2 separate regions of the Homo sapiens genome follow, and region 1 is linked to region 2. Evidence: fine-mapped expression QTL. A gene starts in region 2. The other region holds a variant in brackets. All regions are shown on one strand. Distances are between the middles of the regions.

Region 1 (5,377 bases), 58 kb after region 2:
TTTACTGATTCCGCTTTTTGCTTGATTCAGGAACTTTTCATTGTTTGGGGAAGCTTTTGAATGCAGTACTGTGGAGGAAATCATCCTTAAAATAGCATTTCACACATAGGGCCAAAATTGAAATTGTCAAGGAAACCCCTCAGCATCTAACGTCATCTTGTAGAAGAGCTGGGCATACCTCTTCCTCTAGGCCAATTCAGAGGCCACTGGCCACCCAAGTAGAGTGGGGCCCACTGGCATGAGTAGTCCCTGTGCCCATGCCCATGGTGGTGCTTGACTTTGCTTTGGGGCTTAATCCTAGTATCATTTGGCCATTAATTTTTAATTAAGTTTATACTTGAATAATCAGTTTTACTCCTGAAAAATTTTGAAGCCAGCACTGACTTTGTTTATATTCACTTACCTTGTATATGAACTTATGACATTAGAGTTTGTGAAACTGTCTTAACGTGGCTCATACACGTGATGTCAGAGGGACTGGTCAGTTCTTTACAGGGTGAATTAATCGGCAGCTGGCTAGTCAGAGCAACTGATGGGTGGCTTTTTTTTCTTTTTTTTTTTGAGACGGAGTCTCGCTCTGTCACCCAGGCTGGAGTGTAAGGGCGCGATCTCGGCTCACTGCAACCTCCGCCTCCCAGGTTCAAGCAATTCTCCTGCCTCAGCCACCTGAATAGCTAGGATTACAGGCGCCCGCCCCCACACCCGGCTAATATTTTTTGTATTTTTAGTAGAGACAGGGTTTCACCGTGTTGATCAGGCTGGTCTCGAACTCCTGACCTCACGATCCGCCCGCCTCGGCCTCCCAAAGTGCTGGGATTACAGGCGTGAGTGGTGGCCCTATTTTTAAACCATTCGTTACGCTGTGTAGACAGAGCTTTATTGCCCTGGAAAAGATTTTTTTTTTAACTCTCATGCAGTTCAGTCTTTCCATCATTTCACTTTGTGAGTCACTCACATAATTGTCAATCATTCCTCTGACCTTCTTAAGAATTTACACCTTACCGTCTCTGTGATTGAAGCAGACTTCTCGCTTTATTTCCCTTAGGCTCATTTTTCTGTGGGCTCTCCCTTAAAGACACATGGCCACAGACACCTCCTTCGCATATGTAATCTGCCTTCCCCTGCGGCCTTCCGTGGTCACAGCAACAGGGACTGCTCACCCCCTCCAGCTGGGGCTTTTCTAACAAGCACAGTCAGAAATGCGCAGGCCTGGGGTTGGGGATGAACAGAAGTTGATTAGTGGGCACAGAAATACAGTTAGATAGAAGGAATAGTTCCAGCATTCGATATTACAGTAGGGAGACTGCATTTAACAATAATTGATTGTATATTTGAAAACAGCTAGAAGAATAAGAATATTCCCAACACAAAGAAAAGATAAGCGAGGTGAAGGAAATCCCAGTTACCCTCATTCAGTCCATTACACATTCGATACAGGTATCAAAATATCATAGGCACCTCAAAGACATGTACAACTCTTAATTTAACATTTTTGAAAGAAAAAAAAACCGGCCAGAGCATTAAAACAAATAAAATAAGAAACACAGAGGCCAGTGTTAGGTGAAGAACTCCGCTGCTTCAGAAAGAGAATAGCAGCGCTCGCTTACCGTGGGAACACGGCCAGTTAACAAAATGGGTTTTGGTTTTTTGTTTTGTTTTGTTTTACCATTGGTAATAAGATAGTTAACATAAGTGGTCAGAACTTCGCTGAATTTGTAATAAAGCATTTGTTAAGCGTGTAAAAGTCCAAATTAAAAGTCTTGAAGAAAAACAGCTATGGCAATGAGCCTAGACATTTTTCAAAAAAAAAAGCTAAGCCGTCCTACCAGCAATCTCTCTTTCTCCTAAGAATGTCATGCCTTCTCAAGACCTGATGAAAGGAATAAGATATTTGTGCCTTTTTATAAAAGCATCTATTACGAAAGTAAAATTCAGTTGCTTACAGTTTTGGCCGCTTTGTAGCACTATTATAAACAGCCCAAATTTATGGCCTTGGACTTACTGCATGACACATGGCCTGGTTACCTGTCATGGAATGCTGCAGTGGTGGTTTGCCAAGCTTCTGTGGATGTTTGAAGACTTTATTTTTGCAGTCTTAACCTTGGGCTGGACCTAAGTGTATGTAAACCATATGATGCCTGTATTGTTTATAGATGCTGACAAAAGAAAACTAGACCTTTTGTTTTTTGTTGTAAGATTTTTGTTTTCATGCCTATGCTCATAGTAGATAGTTTGCAAATGAAAGTTGATTTGCCATACTTTTAAATAATATTGTTTTAGCTTGAATATTCTATAATACACTTTTATAGAGTATAACATGCTAAATCACTGTTTTGTTGTAAGAA[G/A]GGTGTAAACATTTTGTTAATAAAATGCTATGTTTACAAATATATATTTGCCTCCCAAATGGTTTCTCTTTGTGATATTACTCATCATATGTTCTTCTTAACCAAATACTCTGAAGTCATTTTTAAATGACCTTTGGATACTGAAGTACCAGAATTTTGACAGCTGTAGTGTCTGGTGAGCAGCAAGTTATTTGTACCAAGGTATCTGAAGCTTCCCAGCTTCCCATATCCTTATCTTATACAACTCCTCCCTCTCCTTGCTCTTCAGTAGTTAAGATGGGGGTTCTAGAAGCAGGTCAGCAAGGCCACCAGTGAGCACTTAGAGGGAAGTTTGCTGCCCCTGGAAGAAAGGAACGGTGCAGTGCCCTAGATTGTGGAAGAAAAGGTCTTCCCTCATCTTCCATTATTATGGGGATTTCATCAAAGATGCTAGTCTTTCCATCCCAGTGTTGACTTGAACCCTGCACCCCCAGTACTCTTCATTGCCAGCAGAAGCACTGGCTCACACACACCCGTGCTCTCTTTGCTGTTCCTCTTAGGTAGAAGCACATTTGCCTGTACAGTGTAGGTGTGCCAAAGAGTACCTACAAGTTCAAGTGAGGGAACCAGAGAGAGCAGAGAGGGCTTGAGACAAACAGGCTTGGATTTGAGTCTCATCAGAGCATCTTTCCAAGCTATGTGGCCCTAGACAAGGCCCTTAACCTCTCTGACCTGTGTTTCTTTTATCTTCACAAAGGGAAGGTAATAAGAGCTTATCCCATGTGGCTGTTCGGGTGGGATGCCTGTAGCTGTCGTTTAACACGGCATTAACAAAGCACAAACATCTCACAGGGTTTATTTCTGTAAGCCATCTCCCTGATAATCACTTTCTGATTCAGTTAAAATAACTTTGCTATAAGTCTGCTGGTTTGCTGTTTTGTTTTTTCTATGTTTTTAAGTATAAAACCTACAAAAAATGTCATGAATCTTGGGTACAGCTCAATTAAATTTCACGAAGGTTACCCACATAACCAACCCTCAGATCACAAAGTGGGACATCTGCCACACCTCAGGTGCCCCACCTTGTGCTCCTTCTCTAACATCACTGATGAGTTTTGTCTGGTTTCAACTTTATATACATACCATGTGGTTCCATATGGGTCTGGCTTCTTTCATCCAACATGGTATGTCGTATTCTCATTCATTCTCACTGCTATGTAGGATTCCACTATGTGAATAAACCACCATTTATTTATCTAGTCTATATTGATAGGCATTGGATTATTTCCAGATTTTTGCCATTATGAATGGACCACAGTGAACCTTACATACATCTCTGGTGTAAAGGCTTGTACAGGTTTCTCTTGGGCATGTGCCCGGGAGTGGAATTACTGGGTCATGAGAAATACACACACACACACACACACACATTCTCAATGTCTGTATTTGTTTTTGCTTTTGTAGATAGTTTTCTAAAATGGTGTATTTAGCTGGGCATGGTGGCTCATGCCTGTAATCCCAACACTTTGGGAGGCCGAGGTGGGTAGATCACTTGAGGTCAGGAGTTTGAGACCAGCGTGGCCAACATGGCAAAACCCCGACTCTACTAAAAATATAAAAATTAGCTAAGCATGGTGCCAGGTTCCTGTAATCCCAGGTACTTGGGAGGCTGAGGCAGGAGAAACACTTGAACCCGGGAGGCGGAGGTTGCAGTGAGCCGAGATCACACCGTTGCACTCCAGTCTGGGCAACAAGAGCAAAAGTCCATCTCTAAAACTAAAGTGGAATATCAATATAGCTCCCCCCAGCAGTGTGCAAGAATTCTAGTTGCACAGCATCCTTGCTAACACTTGATATTATTATTTTCTGCTTTTAAAGTCTGGAGATCTGCAGTCCAAGCTGTTAACAGAACTTACCTCTGAGAAGAGAGGCTTGGCCCACAGAACTGTCACCTGGTTTTCACTTTCTCCTGTATATGTACTTCTGTACTTTTAAAATTTTTACCCTGAGTATGTGTGGAATTTTTTTTTTTTGAGACGGAGTCTTGCTCTGTCGCCCAGGCTGGAGTGGCACAATCGTGGCTCACTGCAAGCTCCGCCTCCCGGGTTCACGCCATTCTCCTGCCTCAGCCTCCCAAGTAGCTGGGACTACAGGCGCCTGCCACCATGCCTGGCTAATTTTTTGTATTTTTAGTAGAGACAGTGTTTCACTGTATTATAAAGTTTCACTGTGTTAGCCAGGATGGTCTCGATCTCCTGACCTTGTGATCCGCCCACCTTGACCTCCCAAAGTGCTGGGATTACAGGTATGAGGCACCGCGCCTGGCTGGATTTTTTCTTATTAGAAAAAAAAAAATCAGGAACTCTCACACTCTAATCCTGTCTTCAAATCCTTAGTGAAAATTGGCTCAATACATACACTGAAGTTGAATTTGTCTTATTTTTCTCCTTTTAAACACACACACACACCCTATTCAATTTGGTCAGTAAAAACCTTAGAGCCAGATTTGGGGCAAGTGTGCAAAACTTTATAGCACCGCTTCATTTCATTCTGAAATTTAATACATATCTTTTCAAGCTGCCCTAAATCCTCTTGGACAATAGGGGATAGAGGGAGCATAAATAATACCCGTTAAGAAGGAGAATATGCAGGTGCCTCTCACTTGGGGAAAAAAGAGGAGAATATTAGTCTACACCCTGTCAAGATAGTACTATGGCAGAAGCCAGTCCCATTTGTTGTTGCCAAGAAAAAGGGAATCACAGCCGGGCACAGTGGCTCACGCCTGTAATCCCAGCACTTTGGGAGGCCGAGGCAGGTGGATCACCTGAGGTCAGGAGTTCGAGACCAGCCTGGCCAACATGGTGAAACCCCGTCTCTACTAAAAATACAAAAAAAATTAGCCTGGCATGGTGGCAGGCACCTGTAATCCCAGCTACTTGGGAGGCTGAGGCAGACGAATCGCTTGAACCCAGGAGGTGGAGGTTGCAGTGAGCCGAGATCGCACCATTGCACTCCAGCCTGGGGACAAGAGCGAGACTTCATCTCAAAAAAAA
Region 2 (5,377 bases):
GAGAAGGCTGACCTAGCCAAGTGGAAAGGGCACCTCGCGGAGAACTGAAGTCCTGGCCAACAGCCAGGACCTATGCCACCCACATAAGTGACATCATTTCGGACTTCCCCAACTGAAACCACATTAAGCAGAAGCACCACCCAGTCTACTCACAGATTTGTGGGAAATCAAATGCTGTTGGTTTAAGCCATTGAGTTTTGGGGTGGTTAGATAACTGAAGCAGCTAGAAAATAGCTTTCCAGTCAGACCAAATACCACATCTATGAATGACAAGCACCATCATGGCAACTAAACATTGTTTATCCGTTGTATCAACGGAAATGATACAACTCCTTCAATCTGAGCATGCCCATCGGCTGAAACATTCAGCTGGGTAAACCTGGATCTATACTGTACCAGGCTCAACAGTGTTAAATAACTACTAATAATGATCACATGAATAACGGTAACAGCAGCCATTATTTACCAACTGTTTATTACATACTAGGCATTGTGCTAAATCCTTTATTCATTTAATCCCTTATAAAAGCCTTTTGAGGTGGGCCACTATAATGCCCATTTTACTGATGAGGTCGCTGAGGCATAGAGTGGTACAGCGACTTGCCTGGGATCACACTGACAGTAAACAGTGATACGGGATTTCACTCTTGGCCATCTGATTCCACAGACACCGGGCTCTTAACTATCAGCTTGCTTTACCCCTTCAAAAGTGTTATGCTACTTTAACAAAACTGCCCCTTGTTGGTTTGTTTTGTTTTGTTTTGTTTTTTTGAGACGGAGTCACTCTGTCGCCCAGGCTGGAGTGCAGTGGCGTTCACTGCAACCTCTGCCTCCCAGGTTCAAGCAATTCTCCTGCCTCAGCCTCCCGGGCAGCTAAGATTAGAGACGCGCGCCACCAAGCCCGGCTAATTTTTGTATTTTTAGTAGAGACAGGGTTTCACCATGTTGGCCAGGCTGGACTCAAGTGATCTGCCCGTCTCTGCCTCCCAAAGTGCGGGGATTACAGGCCTGAGCCACCGCACCCAGCCGAAACTGCGCCTTCTGAGTTAATGTGTGTAAAGAGTTTAAGACTGGGCCGGGCGTGGTGGCTCACGCCAGTAATCCCAACACTTTGGGAGGCCGAGGTGGGCGGATCACGAGGTCAGGAGATCGAGACCATCCTGGCTAACAGAGTGAAACCCCTTCTCTACTAAAAATACAAAAAATTAGCCGGGAGTGGTGGCGGGCGCCTATAGTCCCAGCTACTTGGGAGGCTGAGGCAGGAAAATGGCGTGAACCCAGGAGGTGGAGCTTGCAGTGAGCCGAGATCGTGCCACTGTACTCCAGCCTGGGCTACAGAGCAAGACTACGTCTCAAAAAAAAAAAAAAAAAAAAAAGAGTTTAACGCTGTCTGGTCCATGGTAAGTTTTCAGTAAACACCAACTCTTACTATTAGGAAACCTGAAGATGTGGAATGAAAGATGAGAGGAAGTACTGTATATGACTGGCGTACAGTACGCCCCCAATTAATGTTAGCTATTTGGATGATTTATATAGGGCTTCTTCACCAGCAAGCACTCCGGTGCTCGGTAATTTTCTGTTTACAAGTAGGCTCTCCCCACACCCTGTGAGCTCCCTGCGTGTAGAGCTGTTTTCAACACATCCTTGCAGGTTCGGAGCCCAACACGTGGCCCCCAGAGCAAATAGCTGCTCAGTAAGTTTCTTGACAGGAGAGAAAACGCTTCCTTCCTTCACCAGAAATGCGAACTTGGATTTCTAAGATGACACCTCCCCCAGCTACCAGCCCTTAACATGATTCCAAAAAAGAGGGCAAGAAGGGACAAGGGTCCCACCCAAGAAATGCGGGGGCCAATGGGCTCCATGGGATAAGAGATGGAGCCGGGCTTGTGGCCAGGACACTTGAGAAGTCCGTGCAACTCCGTGACCGGCCACACCGAGAGGGGGACCTCCCAAACCCCCCAGCAGTCCTAAAAAGTCCCTAGGAAAAGGGCAAGGCCCTGAGAGGGAAGTCACCCACCTCCCAGGTGGCGGACCCCCCGCCCGCCCAGGGTCGACTAGGACTTGGGACTACCCCCTCCGCCCATCCCACGGCAGCTGCAGGCGCAGGAAGAAAAGAAGTGACAGGGAGTCCAAAGTTTCCCCAACAACAAAAATCCTTCCCCCGAGGGAAGGGAAGGGCTCCCACCCTCAGCCCGCCCCGCCCAGGGAGGAGGGACCGCCACCAGTGGATCTAGGCAGTTGGGGGTCCCGCTGTTCTGGTCCCGACAAGGAGTGCCTGGCTTGAGGTTCCCCCGCCCCGCGCTTCGTGCACTCTGAATTCTTTGAGAGGGTCCCAGGGAGGGACAGGGGTGCCCCAACTCTTACTTACAGTCGTCTAAGTCATCCTGCAAGTCCACAAAGTACAGGGGGATCTCTGAAAACCAAGAAACACACAAGAAGTTACCAGGGGGCTGCGGCGAGAGGGGACGGGGTCGGGCAGGGGCCCCTCGGCCTCGCGGGGTGGTCACGGGGCGAGAGAGAGAGGGGCACCCCTGGCATCCCCCGAGCCCAGCCCCACTCACCCGCCATCTTGGGATGGGCATGGAGGCGGGACCGGCAGGGGCGGGGCCCTGCAGACAGGGGCGGGGCCCTGCAGACAGGGGCGGGGCCCTGCAGACAGGGGCGGGGCCCTGCAGACAGGGGCGGGGCCCTGCAGACAGGGGCGGGGCCCTGCAGACAGGGGCGGGGCCCTGCAGACAGGGGCGGGGCCCTGCAGACAGGGGCGGGGCCGTCGGCTTCGGGCCCCGCCCCCGATCCGCGCCGGCCGGCCGGCCCCGCCCTCTCAGCGAAGGTGGCTGCCGAGGTGGGCGGGGAGGTCAGGTGACGCGGCCGGCGTCCCAAGATGGCGGCGGCGGCGGCTCCCGGAAGGCCGCGGCGGCGTCCCGGCTGCTAAGGCGGGCCCCACGCGGCTGGCAGCGGACAGGCCGGACCTACGGCCGGAGGACGGGCGGCAGCCGCCTCTGCGCGGACCGGGGCTGGGCCGTGCGGCGGCAGCGGCGCCAGGGGATGCTCTTGCTGGGCCTGGCCTCTCCCTTCTCAACTTAGGGCGGCGGCGGGCCCGCGCCCCTGGCTCCCGGGCCATGGCGCTGAGGGAGCTCAAAGTGTGTCTGCTCGGGGTGAGTGGCGGCGGGTCCGGCCGGGAGGGCCACGGGAGGCTGGGCTGGCGGGGACCCCGGATCCCCCCTGTCCCCTCATCCCTTCCCCCCTCCCACGTCCAAGACGCTGTCTGCCAGCCCCGTGGACCCTCCCTCCAGCTCGGGAGCCGTCCCGCCCACCTCTTGCACTCTCGAAAAGGTCCTGGAGGCCGAAGGGACCCTTCCCCTTCCCCTCCCTGGAGCCCGTGGACTCTTCCCGCCCCACAAAGAGCAAACAGCCCCCCCTTGCCTCTCTATTGCATCTGGGTTAAGAGAGGTTCTTAAATAGTTTTCTCCCAACTTACCAAGGTATTAGTTGGGAGTTGGCCAAGTCTTCCAAAGTAAAACCAATAACAGGTCTTTAGGTTTTACAAGCAGCATTAGCCTACTTTGTCTCTTGGGTGTTTTTGAACTTGTGGGATACCCCTGCCACTTGTCCAAAGAGTTACTTTGCCAAGTAACTCTTCCTGTGGAGAAAAGGGGTGTTCAAATCAGGAAGCCCCAAAGACTAGTTTGAAGCTTCAGCTTCCTGTCTTGTCAGGAAAGACAAGGTGTTGGCCATTTCAAAGCCTTCTTTCTGAAATTGATGCTGTCATTCCAGAGTTTCTGCCTTAAAGATCGGCAGGAACTCCAATAACTAATCTTTATTCCCCCAAATAGGGTGGGGCTAGGATTCATCAGGGATTACTCAGAGGTAACTCAGGAGTTCAAAGTTTACTAACATATGTTAAAAAGCAAGTGGACTTGTTACTTTTTACACGAAGCAGAAACTTTGGGTCTCTCAAAAGGTCCTAATCTGTCTTAACGGCAAAAACCTCTCCCTTTTAGTACAGTTGGAATTTCCTAATTACTCTACTGAATTTTTATGACAACCGCTTTTGTGTTCCTCCGTTTATAAAATTTACACGTCTAGGGTGATTTTTCTAAAATCCTGAACTTATGCCACAAAGTAGTTTTTGGTGTCTGCCAAAAGGTAAACTTTTTCTCAGTCCCTCATCTCGTTCTCTTTCAGGATACAGGTGTAGGTAAATCGAGTATTGTGTGGCGGTTTGTGGAAGACAGTTTTGATCCAAACATCAACCCAACAATAGGGTAAGAGACTTTTATTTGATACACATCTAAAGGTGCATTGAAAATCCTTCCAAATACATAGTGTGTTACAGGTGTAGGCCCTGCGCTTTGTAGTCATTGAATTCTGAGTCGCTGGTTCGCATCATCTCTGGAAGGACTTGAAAGAGTCCAGTGAGGATCTGTGTATTTTAGGAAAATTATCTTCGGACTTGTTGGGGGTGAGAACTTCAAAATGCAAATATGAATTGGAGTTCTACTAATTATTAGAACAGACACAGAAGCTTCGGTCTATAAATATCAACAGCAATTACACCTTGAAATAAGGCAGATGAAAATAGATCCTGGTGCTATTCTTTCAGGCATATCAAGTAAAAGACATTTAAATGGTTTTTGTCCTTCCTGAAAGTAGTAGGTTGAGATCTGAACCCTTACACATTCCTGTACTGGTAGTAATAATAAATTAATAAATTCATATTGAAATGGAAGGTTTTTTCAGTTCTCTGGTTCTATGGATAAGTAAAGTTGATTGTTCATATGTTTTTGACGCTATAAGAAAACTTTTCATTTTGCAATACTAATCCTTTGACTACATAAGAAGTTGTGTTTTATAGGCTTTAATATTATGTTAACCTTATAAAACTAAATAGGTGCTGTGCTCTAGTTTTAATCATCAAACCCTCAAATGGTTTCCAGCATTTAAAGAAAAAATCTATGTTATCCATCATTAGGATAAAATTGGCCTTTGTGCTCCATGCAGATCATTCTTTGACTAATAGAGAAATATTTTACAGCCCAGGAGAGAAACTGCCATAAGATTGTCCCCTGAGAAATTATGAGCTCCTGCTGTCAGAGGTTATTTATGGATTTTTTTGAGACAGAGTTTCGCTCTTTTTGCCCAGGCTGCGGTGCAATGGCGCAATCTTGGCTCACTGCAACCTCTGCCTCCCGGGTTCAAGCGATTCTCCTGCCTCAGCCTCCTGAGTAGCTGGAATTATGGGCGCCCACCACCATGCCCAGCTAATTTTGTATTTTTAGTAGAGACAAGGTCTCACCGTGTTTGCCATGCTGGTCTCGAACTCCTAACCTCAGGTGATCTGCCCACCTCAACCTCTCAAAGTGCTGGGGTTACAGGC

Direction of the effects. Positions count from the first base shown, and alleles are read on the strand shown. Sizes are in standard deviations (SD) of each study's normalised expression.
With allele A in place of G in region 1, the expression in skeletal muscle of the gene that starts at base 2,858 in region 2 is lower (small effect, 0.16 SD a copy in GTEx).

Evidence for each region. PIP is the estimated chance that this variant, and not a neighbour inherited with it, causes the effect.
Region 1: its variant is the best candidate, but not a certain one, in a credible set for the expression of RAB22A in skeletal muscle (GTEx, PIP 0.55).

What each region holds. Positions count from the first base shown.
Region 1 is chr20:58,365,119-58,370,495 of GRCh38, forward strand. RAB22A (RAB22A, member RAS oncogene family) reads left to right here. Exons shown (of 7, transcript NM_020673.3): 7 at 1-2,389. Among named protein-coding and RNA genes, the nearest start is that of VAPB, 21 kb to the right of the region's middle. The variant G/A (reference allele first, on the strand shown) is at 2,346.
Region 2 is chr20:58,306,858-58,312,234 of GRCh38, forward strand. It overlaps RAB22A (RAB22A, member RAS oncogene family), which reads left to right and starts at 2,858. Exons shown (of 7, transcript NM_020673.3): 1 at 2,858-3,155; 2 at 4,186-4,265. The coding sequence starts at 3,120. It also overlaps the pseudogene PPP4R1L. RefSeq lists silencers at 2,327-2,886, 2,927-3,256.